Linked DNA regions of Homo sapiens: region 2 is reported to be linked to region 1. Evidence: microRNA targets listed by miRTarBase, many of them from high-throughput screens and not tested one by one. Region 1 holds a microRNA gene; the other region holds the end of a gene's coding sequence.

The links. Region 1 holds the annotated microRNA hsa-miR-339-3p (UGAGCGCCUCGACGACAGAGCCG, at 3,345-3,367, shown strand). A microRNA usually pairs through its seed, bases 2 to 8, with sites in the 3' UTR of a target mRNA and lowers its output. Matches are read on the target gene's strand: a 7mer-m8 pairs with bases 2 to 8, a 7mer-A1 pairs with bases 2 to 7 and ends in A, and an 8mer does both.
Region 2: miRTarBase lists WDTC1 as a target of hsa-miR-339-3p. Seed matches in the 3' UTR shown: 7mer-m8 at 1,712-1,718.

What each region holds. Positions count from the first base shown.
Region 1 is chr7:1,019,060-1,026,321 of GRCh38, reverse strand. MIR339 (microRNA 339) reads left to right here and starts at 3,296; the gene lies at 3,296-3,389. All of the region lies in intron 2 of CHLSN (cholesin), which reads left to right. RefSeq lists an enhancer at 2,628-3,185.
Region 2 is chr1:27,305,435-27,312,434 of GRCh38, forward strand. It overlaps WDTC1 (WD and tetratricopeptide repeats 1), which reads left to right. Exons shown (of 16, transcript NM_001276252.2): 16 at 752-3,202. The coding sequence ends at 949. Among named protein-coding and RNA genes, the nearest start is that of TMEM222, 13 kb to the right of the region's middle. RefSeq lists enhancers at 1,822-2,347, 2,348-2,873, 2,874-3,398.

The sequences.
Region 1 (7,262 bases):
CGCTGGCTCTGCGAGGGCTCTTCAGCAATGCCAGGTGCAGCTGGGCTCCACCCTCAACTGGTCCAATAGTAGCGAAAGAAACGAGGAGTGTCGTGAATCGTTAGACAGCGTCCATATGCCTAAGTTCAAATTGGAGCCGCCCAGCCCTACCTGTGGATACAAAGCTGCCGTTCAGTGGGGAGCTGGAGCCGAGGGGCCTATGTGACACCCCTGCATGTGGATGAAAATCACCCAGAGGCCCTGCCAACATTCTGGGAGGTGGCAAGGGGGCAGGGCCTCTGGGATCTGGGGTCACGAGTTCCAGGAGGCCTGCTTCTGCTTCTGCCCAGCAGTTCACTCTTCCCTCCACTGCAGCTGAAGCTTGAGCTGCTGCGGGGCCCACCTGGCCGGAGGCAGAAGGGAGCCCTCCGTCCCAGGCAGCGTCCTGGTGGGTGTCTGTCCTGTGCCAGACACTGGCCACAGAGGCTGAGAAAGGAGAGGACCCCAGCCTGCCTCTGGAGGCCCAGGGGAGGCAGTGAAGGGCCCAAGGCTGGTGATGCAGGAGTTTCCAGAGCGCAGGGAAATACAGAGCAAGAAACGCCAGCCCTCAGCTCCACTGGGGAGCCACGCAACCTCTACCGGTGCTGAGGGGTTACAAAGCTCTGTTACCAGCCCCATTCCTCCTGGATGGGCGAGGTCGGTCCGTATCACACCCCCAACCTCTTGTGCTCTGCGACCTCAGAATACACGGAGCTGTGTCCACAGGCCTCAGCGGCTGTGAGCCCCTCGCCTACACTGGGGGGTCCTCAGCTGACACCTGAGCCAGTGTCCTGTGCCCCAGTGGTGCCAGGGCAGAGTCCCCCTCCCTGACCTGACTTGTGCACCTCGTCACCCACCGCCAGCAGTGTCCCCCCACAACAGGCTTGCTCAGTACAGCACCCAACCCAAGTCCCCAGCACCCACACCCCAGTGAGTTTCCTGTGCCCTATAGGCTCAGCTGCTTCTCGTCCTCCCCCCACTTGGGATCCTTGGAACAGGGAGTGGTTCTTATTTAGGTCCCTGAGGTACCAAGCACAGGCTTTGCTCTTAGCAGCCGCCACTCCAGTGATGAAGCCGTTAGCAGACTGGCCTCTGCAGAGCTCTGCGGGGAGGTGCCTGGCTTCTCCGGCCTCCACCCTGGCCCAGAGCTGCCTCCTGAGCAGCGGATCCCAACCTGCCTGCCCCTGGGGCTGGGTCTCCAGCAGTCAGGACTGAGTTGTTGCTAGCTGCTGACAGGTGTGGGGCGAAGGGGGCGCATTTGCCGCATGTCCCCATTGGCAGCATCTCCACGCCTTCCCTTGTGACACCTCCAACCAGAATAGAGCAGGTATGTGGGAGCCCGCACCTGCTCCCCCAGCGCCCCGGGGTCGTCTTCTGCCTGCTCCTTCTGTCCTCCACACTGAAGAGTGTGCTCCAGCTGGGGATGGGCATGTGTGACGCTGGGGAATGGATACCTGTGAAATGGTGGAGTGTGCATCAAGTCTAAATAGCCGCTCGCAGGATCTGGGGGCTTTTTGTTTTCAGAAACCTGATCTGATCTTTATAAAAAGTGCTCCCCCACTCAGTCAGCCTGGGTGTCCCTCCCGTCCAGGCCAGCAGCGCTGTCTGGCTCGGCAAGGAGGGGCTGAAACTGGAGAGCCCCTGGGAAGGCTCTTGTGGGCCAGGTGGCAGCGGGGAGGGTGGCTCTTGTTCCCCGCCCTCATCCTAGCGTTCAGCAGACTGCCCCACACCACAGGTTTCCATTTTCACCCTTGGGTTAAGAGAAAAGCAGAAATAAAAAGTTTCTAATGTTGCTTGCGAAATTCAGCACTGGCCACCAAAGGCACCTGGGGCTTCTGCGTCTCTCTTGTCCCCTGGGGCTCCTGCGTCTCTCCTGTCCCATGGGTCCGTTTCTTGCTGTTTATTGCAACCCGCCTACATCGTTGGTGTGTGCAGCTGAACTCAGGCTGTTTAGGAAGCCCACGGGCAGGGCTCTGTGGGGCCCATTCCTGGTCCCACGTCTCTGGCAAGGGCTCCTCTTGAGCTGAGGCTTCTGAGCTCCTGCAGGCGGGAGTAGGGAGGCAGGTCCCACTGTCAGCCAAGCTGCAGGGTTTTTAGGAAGAAAGTGGGGGCTGTGCACCGTGGGCTCACACCTATAATCCCAGCACTTTGAGGCTGGCCGGAAGGATCGCTGTGGCCCAGGAGTTTGAAAACTCATGCCTATAATCCCAGCACTTTGGGAGGCCGGCAAGGAGGATCACTTTAGCTCAGGAGTGTGAGAGCAGCCTTGGTCCTATCTCTATAAAAAATTTAAAAACTGGCCAGGCATGGTGGCACATGCCTATAGTCCTGGTTGCTTGGGAGGCTGAGGTGGGAGGATTGCTTGAGCCCAGGAGGTCGAGGCTGCAGTAAACTGTGATGGTGCCGCTGCAGTCCAGCCTGGGCCACAGAGCAAGACCGTGTATCAAAAGGAAAGGGCTGCTGTGGAAGGGCCTCCAGTCCCCTGGCCTGGGCTGCAGGGGCCGCTGCTCCAGCCCTGCCTTCTACATGTGCCGAGATGTGAGCAGTCACCCCTGGAGATCCTCACCCCTTCTCTGTAGAACGAGGAGTTGGGCTGCCAGGGATTGGGGTCTGGGCGCGTTGCTGGTGTGTGTGTGTGTGTGTGTGTGTGTGTGTGTGTGTGTGTGTGTGTGTGTGTGTTTCCTGGGAGGAGGCCCCCACAGTCTTCGTCATGTTCTCCAGGGCCCAGTGGGAAGGAGTTGGAAGTTGGATGGAGAGAAATGTGGAGTAGGGCAGGAACCTCCTTCCTAGGAAGGAGCCTGCGGGGGACCCTGCAAGGGGTCCCAGGTTCCCAGGAGGCCTCGGGTGTGCTGTCAGAGGGGCGCTGGGGCTGGGAGTCTGTCCATGTCTTCAGCCTGGGTCTCGTGAGTTCAGGGAGTTTGAACCTGGGTGGAGAATGAGCCCCTGTGCGTCTTCCCTAACCTCCAGCTGACACGAGCTTCCGCAGACCCCGCGGTGGCGGGTGTGGGCGCTCCCCGTGCCATCTGTTGGGGACACCTCACACATCACTTGCGCTCAGCCCGTGTCGCGGCTGCAGGAGCCACCAGACCTTGTAAATACTCGGATGCCCACATCTGCTCGTCTGTGTCTCCCTGTGGCTGTGCATCAGACCTCACGCGTTTAAAACGTCCTTCTGAGAAGGGGCCACAGGCAGGTGCCACCCATTGCCACGGCACCATGGCAGGAAGCGTCCCATGCTCTGCAGGGGTGGCAGGAAGCGTCCTGTGCTCCGCAGGGGCGGGGCGGCCGCTCTCCCTGTCCTCCAGGAGCTCACGTGTGCCTGCCTGTGAGCGCCTCGACGACAGAGCCGGCGCCTGCCCCAGTGTCTGCGCCGGGACCATGGAGTGGCCAGCTCGCCGCGGAGACGTCGCCGCGCTTTGTAGCAGCCCCTGGACTCGTATGCGTGGGTCTTCTGATGCAGTGTGTTTTATTCGGTATCAACATGGAAGGGGGAGAGCATGGGATGTTCCACTGGTGTCCTAGGGAGGAAGTAACTGGGGAGGGAGGACGGTTGGGGGGGATTCACCTTTAAAGAATTTGAGAGCTTGTTTATTTTGCAGAATAAGAGTAAATTAATCCCCTGTGTGTTTCTGATCATTAAGAAGACCACATCGATGCTGTTGGTTGTGGGACTGTCATTTCAGAGTCCGGATCCGAATGTGGTCCTGGCTACTCTGCGAGGGTTGCCGTGGGAGGAGGTGGTGGAGGGCACGTGGGCGTCCCGTGTTCCCTCACGACGGCCGTCACCTGCGATTGCGTTAAAATAAAAGGCTTAATTTAAAAAACTCTTGTTTCTCAGAAAAAGCAGTTTACTACTGTGAGTTAACGCCGTGGGATTCTAATAATTGAGGTGACAAATCTGATTAAGGTTTTCTTTAAATTGGAACAGAATCCGTACGGGTGCCCCATGAGAGGGCTGTGGGACGTGGGACCAGGCTCCTGACCTTGGAACCCCTGGGTGGGGTCTGAGGCGATGCAGGAGAAAGAGGAGCTCGTGGTCCAGGAGGCGCCCGTGGGTGGGGACATGCCTCCCCGCAGGCCTGCGTCTGTCCTCGTGGGACGGGGCCAGGCTTCTGGTCCTTCCCTCCTGAGCTGCCGTCACCACCGTGGCTCACGAACAGTGCAGCGGGGCTCCTGGTGGTCTGCGAGCAGACTCCGGTGGACTCAGGGTTGGTTGCCCTGTCCAGGGGGCCTCGAGTGCTCCAGGACATGGCCTGTCCGATGTGGCCCAGGCGCCACGCCTGTGGGCCGTCATCGCTGTCACCTGGGTGTGCCGAGGGACTTGGGCTTTCCTGCCACCCCCGCGGAGGATCGAACCTTGTGACCCAGGCCGAGGGAGCTGCCCTGGGTGCCCCTCAGGCTCCTGCTCCCCAGGACTCAGTTTATACCCCAAAACCCAGCCTCGCCCCGCGGAAGGGCGCGCATCCCAGTGTGTTTCCCTGTGCCAGGCACAGTTCTCGCTGGGCGGGTATTTTTGCCGCATGCTTTCTTTTAGTGCGCTGTTTGTGTATGGTTGTTGGTGAGCTGTGGTTTCTGTCTGGTGACAAGTAGGGAGGGGTTAGGGGGGTGGTGTCCTGCCTCCAGCCGACCTGCCGGGGTTCCCAGAGGGCACTGCGGTGGCAGCAAAGCCAGTCACACTGGGGCTGGCAGATTGTCCCTCTCCCATCCAACAGCATGGGGAAATGATTGATGACTGACAGCTGCTGAAGCCCTACTCCTGTGCGGTGGATGGACAGTGCTCCCTGGGGTCCCAGCTCCAACTACTGGCATCTTGTCAAAGCAGCAGCCCAGGTGGCCACCACTGCCGATCAGACTTAATGGATGAAGACAGGAAGGCTGGGCAGAGCCCTTCAGCTTCCGACTCTGGTTCAGTCACTGAAATCCGCAATATCATCTCTGTCAAGGTCAGGTCCTACTGCCACGATGAAAAGGCTTCTGGGGAAGAAGAAAGAAACCTGCCCCATGGGTGCCAGCCTGGAGGTCCACACTAGAGGTCCCTGCTGGGAGATCCTCAGCCTGGAGGTTCCCAACCTGGGGGTCCGTGCTGGGAGGTCCCCAGTCTGGAGGTCCCCAACCTGGAGGTTCTTAACCTGGTGATCCCCAACCAGAAGGTCCCTACTGGAATGTCTCCAGCCTGGAGGTTCCCAACCTGGAGTTCCCTGCTGCGAGGTCCCCAGCCTGGAGGTGCCTGCCTGAAGGTCCCCAGCCTGGAGGCCCTGCTGGGAGGTCCCCAACCTGGAGGTACCTGCCCGAAGGTCCCCAGCCTGGAGGTACCTGCCTGAAGGTCCCCAGCCTGGAGGCCCTGCTGGGAGGTCCCATCTGAAGGCTCCACCTGGTGGTGTCTTTCGTAACCCCAGTCCCCAGCTCTGCTGTATCAGGACGTTACAAACGGCCTGATTGCCCCCAAGAAAGTCGAGGGGTCCTGACCCCTGCACTCCTCCGTTTCACACAGCCTGGGGAGCCCAGAGGAGCAGGACATCCAAGGCCCAGGCCGTCTGCAGGGGTGGTCAGCAGACGGCAGTGATGGGCTGGTGTCTGCCCCTGAGATCAGAGGTGAACAGGAATGGGAGCCTCTGTTTCCTGCAGGTCCTCCCTGCTCGGGAGGTGGGTTCGGTAAGGGCTGGGTTTACTGTCATTCATTTCCTTACATCATCTTGGTCTTAGCTGTGTGAGACTAGCTGTCCCTGCAGTCTGGGAGGGGTTGGCCTGTTCCCCAACCCGCTACAGCCCCCTTGTGTGTGGTATCCGCCAGACATATCTCGATAGTGGGGGCTCCAGGTGGGGGCGCCGAGGGGCCCTTGGGTGGAGACGCAAGATGGGGCAGCGGCTGGCGAGAAGCGAACCTAGGGGGCTCCTCTCTGGGGCCCAGGAAGAGTTCTTGGAGAGGCTGTCCTGGCTCTGACAGGAGAGCGGGCCTCCCCTTTGGTGGGCGTGCTGGGCGGGGCCCCAGGCTGCAGGAGGACTGTGATGGGAGCAAGGGGTGCCCCCTCTCTCAGGGAGCCCCAGGAGGGCAGAGGCTGCAGCGCGTGTTCACAGGACGGGAGCATGAGGGAATGCACTCCGCGGCGTGGGAAGAAACAGTCGTGGGGACCAGGGCATCGCACGCGGGGCCTGCCGCATCCATGCACTGCTGGGCCTGGTGCCCGTGTTCCCGCAGAGCAGCAGACACCACCACTCCGCCGGCCCTTGGATCTCTCCTCAGTGGGAAGAGAGGCTGGGGACGGGCCGGCCACCTGCCGCCTCGCTGGACTTCTGCCCTGGGATTCCTGAGACGAGAGCCGAGCGTCCTAAGCTGCCCTCGTCCAGGTGCCCCGTGGCCTCCCTCGGGAAACGCACTGTAGCTTGGCCTCCGGGCCGCGGTCAGTGCCTGCGGGCCTCTGGGTCCAGGCTGTGGGAACTGTCCACTTCCTGGGAGGGCAGGAGTGAGAGACCTGAGTGGGTGACCCCAGGCAGCCCCAGCCCCCCACACTCCATCAGGAGAAGAGGGGTCAGGGCCACAGCCAACCAGTCTCCGCTTCCTGCTTGCTTCCCACCGCCTCTGCCCATCTGGAAGCCCTGGCTGCAGTGGGGGCCCTCCTCGTGGTGATGGGCCTGGAGGTTCTTGGCGGCCACTGGAGCTTCCTGCAGCCACTAGGCCTGCGCAGCCTCCCCTCTGCCCACAGGGCAGCCCCACGGCCACCTCCGCTCTGTGGTTTGCCTTCTTGGACTCAGGGCTTCACTGTTTTGAAAAGCCCGGGTGCTGCAGTGAGGACCCCGCTCCGCATTTCTGCCGGGAGCTGTGAGCAGCCAGGCCAGCCTCCTCACGGTGCCAGGAAGCCTCTCCTTCTGGCCCAGAGCAGCAGCTGCCCCTTCCAGCATTGACCGTGGGTGATCAACAACCTGGCATGGGGGCAGGATTTTCCCTATAGAACCATTGAACAACACGGACCTGTCAGCTCAAGGTACCTTCTGGCTTTGCAGGTGGCTAGAGATCCATGCAACCACAGGTGGGCCTGGTTGGGCCCCTCCAAACCCTCACCCTCTTCCTCCCTCCCTTTCACTCCCCCCCCCCCGTTTTTTTTTTTTTTTTTTGAGACAGAGTCTCACTCTATTGCCCAGGCTGGAGTGCAATGGCGCGATCTTGGCTTACTGCAACCTCTGCCCCCCGCGGGTTCAAGCAGTTCTGCCGCAGCCTCTCGGGTAGCTGGGATTACAGACGTGCACCA
Region 2 (7,000 bases), not on the chromosome of region 1:
GCCTAAGTTTGAATCCAGTCTCCTCACTCGCTGCCTGAGAGACTTCACCATCTCTGACCCAGGCTTTTAATCATCTGTACATTGGGAATGGGAATGACAGCACCACCTTGAAAGGTTGTGGTGAGAAGTAAAGAAGAGATGCCTGTGAAGTGTCCAGCCCACAAGGACACTTAGGACAGTGGAGTCCCCTCCACTCCCAGGGTGGGTAGCCAGGGAAGCTGGCTTGGTGCCTCCCCTTCCCCTCTGCCCTACTGCTTCCCTCTTCCCAGCTGGCAAAACAAAAGTCAAGTGGTATGTCTGATTCCCAAGATAATTTGCTGTGACTTTTAAAGAGAGGACCCCTATAGGCTTCCCCATTGAGAGGAGAGGAGAAAGAAAGATGAAGCAAGAGTTGTGGCAACAAAACAGAATGGGGTGGGGAAGTTGTATCTGCCCCTTGTCCCAGGTATCCCAGTATGTGTGTCCAACATATCCTGGTGTGTACTGTCCCCCACGTATATCCCAGCATGTTATGACCTGCCTGTATATCCTGAGGTGGCGTATCTCCCATATATATTCCAGCGTGAGCACCCCCAACAATATGTAGCCAAGGTTGTGTGTTCCCCTCCACCATATACACCTCCTGGCATGTATGTGTACCTCCCCCTATAGATAGTTTAGTCTGTGTATTTCCCTCCCCCTCCCCTATACGTGTACCCTGGTGCCTCTCCCTCCCTGAGCCCCACGTGTGTCACCCCTTTCTCCACCACAGAGTGAAGACCTCACAGGCCGAGTCGTGGAAGATATGGAGGGTGCTTCACAGGCCAACCAGCGGCGCATGAATGCAGACCCGTTGGAGGTGATGCTGCTCAACATGGGCTACCGGATCACGGGCCTGAGCAGTGGGGGTGCCGGGGCCTCTGATGATGAGGACAGCTCTGAGGGCCAGGTGCAGTGCCGGCCCAGCTAGACCCTCCAGCCCTGGTCCCCAGCCCCTGCTACTGGCTGGACCCTCTGCCCTGGGCAGGAGGTCAGGGGATTCTGTTTTGGTTTGTCTTCCCCACCACCCTTTTTTTTCATTTCCCCTGTTTTGTTTGTTAGTTTGGCGTTAGGGGTGGAGGTTGCTACAACTTGCTGGCTTTCGGACTCTGGGCTGATTGTCCCCTGACTATCCCCAGCCCTGAAAAAAAGAGCAGGAGGGGACACCCCTCCATATGCCCCCCCCCATCTCCTGCTTTCATGTCCCTGGAGGGCTCTGGCCTGCCTCAAAACCCCTTCTGCCTCAGGTGGGGAGGAACAAGCTGAACTGTCTTCAGGGACTGTCCTGCCCTTTAGCTGGCAGCAGCAGGAGGAGTGGGATTCCCAATTGGTAAGGGCTCGCCTTGGCCTGTTGCCACTCTTGCTCCCTAGCCTGCAAGGCTAGCTCCCCTGTGGTCTTCAGGAAAGGTTTTGAAAAAGGATGGGTCCCACCCTCCCTCCAGAGCCACCAGTGTTAGAGCGGAGCCCAAAGGAAGGATGGGAGCCCTGGAGTGGGCAAGACCAGGCCACCTGCTGAGGTCGCTGTGGAGCACCCTCGCTCCTCTCCTGGCTACTAGCTCTGGCCCTGCACCTACTCTCACTGGCCACCTCTGGAGGCTCTGCCTTTCCCAAGGGCCCTGGCAGAGGGTGGGGCACTGCACCTTACCCCACCCATCCATGCCAGCACTTCTGCACTACGGCCATTCTCCTCTTGGGCGCTCCTCAGCCTCACTGTGACCTTTCTGCCAGAGCTCCCAGCCAGGCCTACTCTGCTGAGGTGGCGCTTCCTGCTAAGGGCCCTTCTCTGCCCTTTCTGCCCTCCTTCCCATCCCACATGCTGAGCCGCCACAAAGACCAAAGAAGTGATGGCTTTTCTCTGTCCCCTGCTGCTCTGAGGGGAGAGGGGTGGGTCTCCTGAGCCACTCAGATGGGAAAGTCCCTTACTCGGCCCCTCCCTCCCCAGCAGCCCCAAGCTTTACACTGGATGCAGCGATCAACCCACCACTCACCAGGCCTCTCCTCCCCTCTGCCCCCGGCTCTTAGCTCCAGCTGCTCCAGGTAGTTGGTTCATCCTTCCCCCTCTCTCCCTCCCTGCTTCCCCTTCAGTGCTTACTTGGCTCCAGCCCTCCAGCTGCAGCCCCTGGGGAAAAGCAGCCTCCCTTCTCCTCTCCCTCCACTCCCTCGCTCCCTCCCTCAGCCCCTGTCTCTGCCAGGTGCCTCCTCTCAGTCAGGCTTCAGAGCAGCCCTGGAGACAGGAGGGCCATGTTAAAAGCTTTTTCACAGTTTTAAGAAGACAAGTGGAGGGTGAGGATAGTGGTGGGGGGTCTGGCACCATCTCATTGCTTTAATCCCAGCAACACAGGTGGCAGCTTCTCCCCCTTCCTTCCCACCCCAGTCCCTCTTCCCACCCCTCTCTTCTAGCTTGGTAATGAAGTATATTTATTGGTGAAGGAAACAGCTGCTGCTGCTTCTCCTGCTGCTGGGACCTGCTCCCCTGTCTCTTCTCCGTGACCTTTCTCTAGCCAGGGAGAAGGGAGAGCAGGAGTATTGGGGCTGGGCCCTGGGGCCCAAGGACCAGCTGGGTCCCCTTTGCTTTCTTGTGTTCCAGCCACCTGCCATTTCCTCCCTGCCTCCCACCCTCCCTCCCTGCCCCCTGTCCTGCTTCCCACCCCCTGCCTGCCCAGCCTGGGCCCTGCAGTGTGGAGAGACACATAAGCCTTACTGTCCTCTGGGGGCAGGAGCCGAGCCTTTTTGTTGCTCCGCTCCCAGGAGAGTGAGGGTGACGCAATTGATTAAAACCATTTTGTTCTAGGTGTGGCTGGTGGCATTTGTGGGGTGCAGATGGGTCTTGGAACCAAAGTGAGGGCACCTGGTCCCTCACCTCTGTAGCTCTATGACTTAGTAACCACACCTCTACTGGACAGAATGAGGCCTGCCTTGAAGGGTCACCGTGAGCAGCGGCCACCCAGCCCAGCAGGGCTGAGTGCAGAGCCCAGCTCTCATGGCTGTGATTTGTAATCATCAGCTTTCACTCTCTGGCTGTTTTCTCATCAGTAAAATAAGGGACTTGGAATCTTAGTGGTTTTTCAAACCATTTTACATTGTGACCCAATATACACATGATTACTTGTAGATATGTGTGTGTGTATATATATATAAAAAAAATGAACAAAAGTTTTACACAATAATATTTACCCTTGCTACATGCAGTGTACTCTGCTTACCCTTCTGTTTTATTAGGGAAAAAAATATGGCTATAACCCACTAAATTGATTTCACATATGCAAGTTTTTGAAGTGCCCTGGATTAGATAATCTCTTAGACTATAGGTTCCTGAACTTTCTTAGCTCACAGCACCATTACCATCTCAGTAATTTTTTCATGGAGCCTCTAAGCCAAAAGAAATAACAGTTCAATTTATTAAGTAGTTAAGTCCAAATCACTTAAAAAGTATTTATGTCCTAACAAGTTAGTTGCCATTTAAAAAATAATACACCTGAATTGGAAGAAACAATATTTATTTCATTCTTTTTTTTTTTTTTTTTTTTTGAGACGGAGTCTTGCTCTGTTGCCCAGGCTGGAGTGCAGTGGCATGATCTCAGCTCACTGCAACCACCGCCTCCCGGGTTCAAGTGATTCTCCTACCTCAGCCTCCCAAGTAGCTGGGATTACAGGCATGTGCCACCATGCCCAGCTATTTTTTTTTTTTTGCATTTTTATTTATTTTTTATTTTTTATTTTTTTTTTGAGACAGTTTCGTTTTTGTCGCCCAGGCTGGAGTGCAATTGTGCAATTGCGGCTCACTGCAACCTCCGCCTCCTGGGTTCAAGCGATTCTCCTGCCTCAGCCTCCCAAGTAGCTGGGATTACAGGTGCCCGCCACCACACCCAGCTAATTTTTTGTATTTTTAGCAGAGATGGGGTTTCACCACCTTGGCCAGGCTGGTCTCAAACTCCTGACCTCAGGTGATCTGCCCGCCTCAACCTCCCAAAGTGCTGGGATTACAGGTGTGAGCCACCGCGCCCAGCCTTCATTCTTAAACAACTGCAATTACTAATGGGATCTATGCTGCCCATTGGGCACTGAACAACTTGTTAAATTTTCTAATCAAAGCAAACACTGCTGCCTTCATTTCCTGTCCCACATTGATTTTCATTTGCTTTTTATCACAGCAACCACTAAAGACCCAGCTTCTTTTTTTTTTTTTTTTTTTTTTTTGAGGCGGAGTCTTGCTCTGTTGCCCAGGCTGGAGTGCAGTGGTGCGATTTCGGCTCACCGCAAGCTCCACCTTCTGAGTTCATGCCATTCTCCTGCCTCAGCCTCCTGAGTAGCTGGGACTACAGGCAGCTGCCACCAGACCTGGCTTATTTTTTATGTTTTTAGTAGAGATGGGGTTTCACCACGTTAGCCAAGATGGTCTCGCTCTCCTGACCTTGTGGTCCACCCGCCTCGGCCTCCCAAAGTGCTGGGATTACAGGCATGAGCCACTGCGCCCGGCCAAGACCCAGCTTCTTAAAGATGACATCATCAAAAGGATTGTGGCATAATGTAATAATGGAACTGTGAACTACCTTGAGCTAATAGTTCTCTCATTAGCCAAAGATGTTGAATATCTTTCAAAATATCCTACTTTGCCCCCTGTGAATTTGCTGTGGGTGCCCTCAGGCACCTTGATGCACAGTTGGGGAACTATGGTTTAGTCTGTGGGAATAGCAGTTCCACTACTGAAACTACTGAGAGGTCCTGCCGGAAACACAATAGGTGGTATTATAAAACAGATACTGTGGGCTGGTATCATTCCTCTGTGTACCCAAATTAACGTCTGCAGAAGCTTCTTGAAGGCATTTCCAGACCAGACAAAGGAAGGACAATGTTCCAGACCAGGGAGTAGTGCAGAGTCTCAGGTTCCTTCATGAACCCTGAGTGACTCCATCTGGCTGGATTGTAGAGGGTAGACTGGAGGAGCAGTCAAACTGAAGGACTTCCTATGGCTGGTGAGAGACCACAGACTCAATCCTGTAGGCAAGGGAGGCATTGGAAGACTTCACGAGGGTCTCCATTTCATTTGGAGTTGGTACTCCATTTTTTAAAAAATTAATAGCCTTTACTTTCTAGAGCAGTTTTAGGCTTACAGAAAATTGAGCAGATAGTATAATGAGTTTCATATAACCCTCTTTCCCCAGCTCAATTTTCCCAATTATTAACATCTTGCATTAGTGTGTTGTTGTAATTAATGAACCAATATTGATACATTATGATAACTGAAGTCCATAGTTTACATTACGGTTCACTCTTTGTGTTGCAAAGTTCTATGGGTTTTGACAAATGCATGTCTCGTATCCACCATTACATTGTCATACAGAATAGTTTCACTGTTCTAAAAGCACCTTGTCCTCCACGTATTCAGCCCTCATTAGCATCCCCCCAAAAAAGTACTTAGGAATAAATCTAACAACATATGTACAAGGTTTGTATGAGCAAAACTACAAAACTGATAAAAGAAACCAAGGAAGATCAAGTAAATGGAGAGATGGTCCATGTTCACGGATAGGAAAACTCAATATTAGGATGTCAGTTCTTTCCAACTTGATCTATAGCTTCAATGTGATCCTGGTCATAGTCCCAGCAAGTTATTTTGTGAGTATCACCAACTGATCCTAAAGTTTACATGAAAATGTAGCAGACCCAGAATAGTTCCACTGTTCCACCTCCTTCTGCCTCTCCTGGTGCCGTTTGTGTGCTCATTCATTCTGTGCAGACCTGGTGCCTCATTGGTGAAGTAGCAGCTGAGGAGACTCCAGCACTCGTGTGGCTGATGAAAAGCCCAAGGAAGGAGTCAAGACTGAGAATAACAATCTTATTAATTTGAAGGTAATGGGGCAGGATTGTTCCATGGTGCAGTTTAAAATTAAAAGTCATATACCGGCCGGGTATGGTGGCTCACACCTGTAATCCCAGCACTTTGGGAGGCCAAGGTGGGTGGATCACCTGAGGTCTGGAGTTTGAGACCAGCCTGACCAATATGGTGAAACCCCGTCTCTACTAAAAATACAAAAAAATAGCTGGACATGGTGGTATGTGCCTGTAGTCTCAGCTACTTGGGAAGCTGAGGCAGGAGAATTGCTTGAACCCGGGAGGCGGAGGTTGCAGTGAGCCGAGATCGCGCCACTGCCCTCCAGCCTGGGTGACAGAACGAGATGCCATCTCATAAAAGAAAAAAAAAGAGTCATATACCACTTAGTAGAGTAATGAAAGTCTATTGTGAATGACAGAGTTTGTCAGTGAGGCAGATCAGATTCTAATTTGACAGGCAACCAGTCAATGAAACAGACACACCTGCACAGTTGGAAATGGAGGATGAAGATACAATTGATGTGTTTCAGCAACAGACAAGAAGTGTCTACTGAAAAAGGAACCTGCTTCTTTACTCTAGAACTTTGTTCTTATAGACCAAGATTACATTCTCAATTAGAAAACTGCAATTTGGTTCCACCACATCATGACTATTACTATAGTATAGTTTTCTCTATTCTTTTATTTTTCCCTTACCCATTCCCTTATTGTACATAAAATAATGGGTGTATGTTCACAAGCATTTTGCTGTTTTAAATATTAAATGGCCAATGACATCCACTTGATGTCAATCAAAACATATCTGTGGGGAAAAATACCGATTCTTGAAAATTACCTCCCTTTCTCCATCAGTGGCATGCTCATTCAACTCTTATCTTACATTGCAATGTTATTTTGTTCTCACTATTTTAACAAAAAAAAAAAATCCTTGCATACCTTATTCAATTGGAGAATTTTAATGTTTTTCATTTATCATTGTAAAACCAAGGACAATTTTATAACTTTTCGTGTATATAGCTCTTACATGTAGGGCAATCTGTCTTTAACTAGAGATAAATTACTCTTAAAAAAAAATCCTAAATAGTTTTCCTTTAAAGTCAAGCATCTTGTTGTTTAAATAAACTTCTTGTTAAAAATGGAGAAAAAGAAG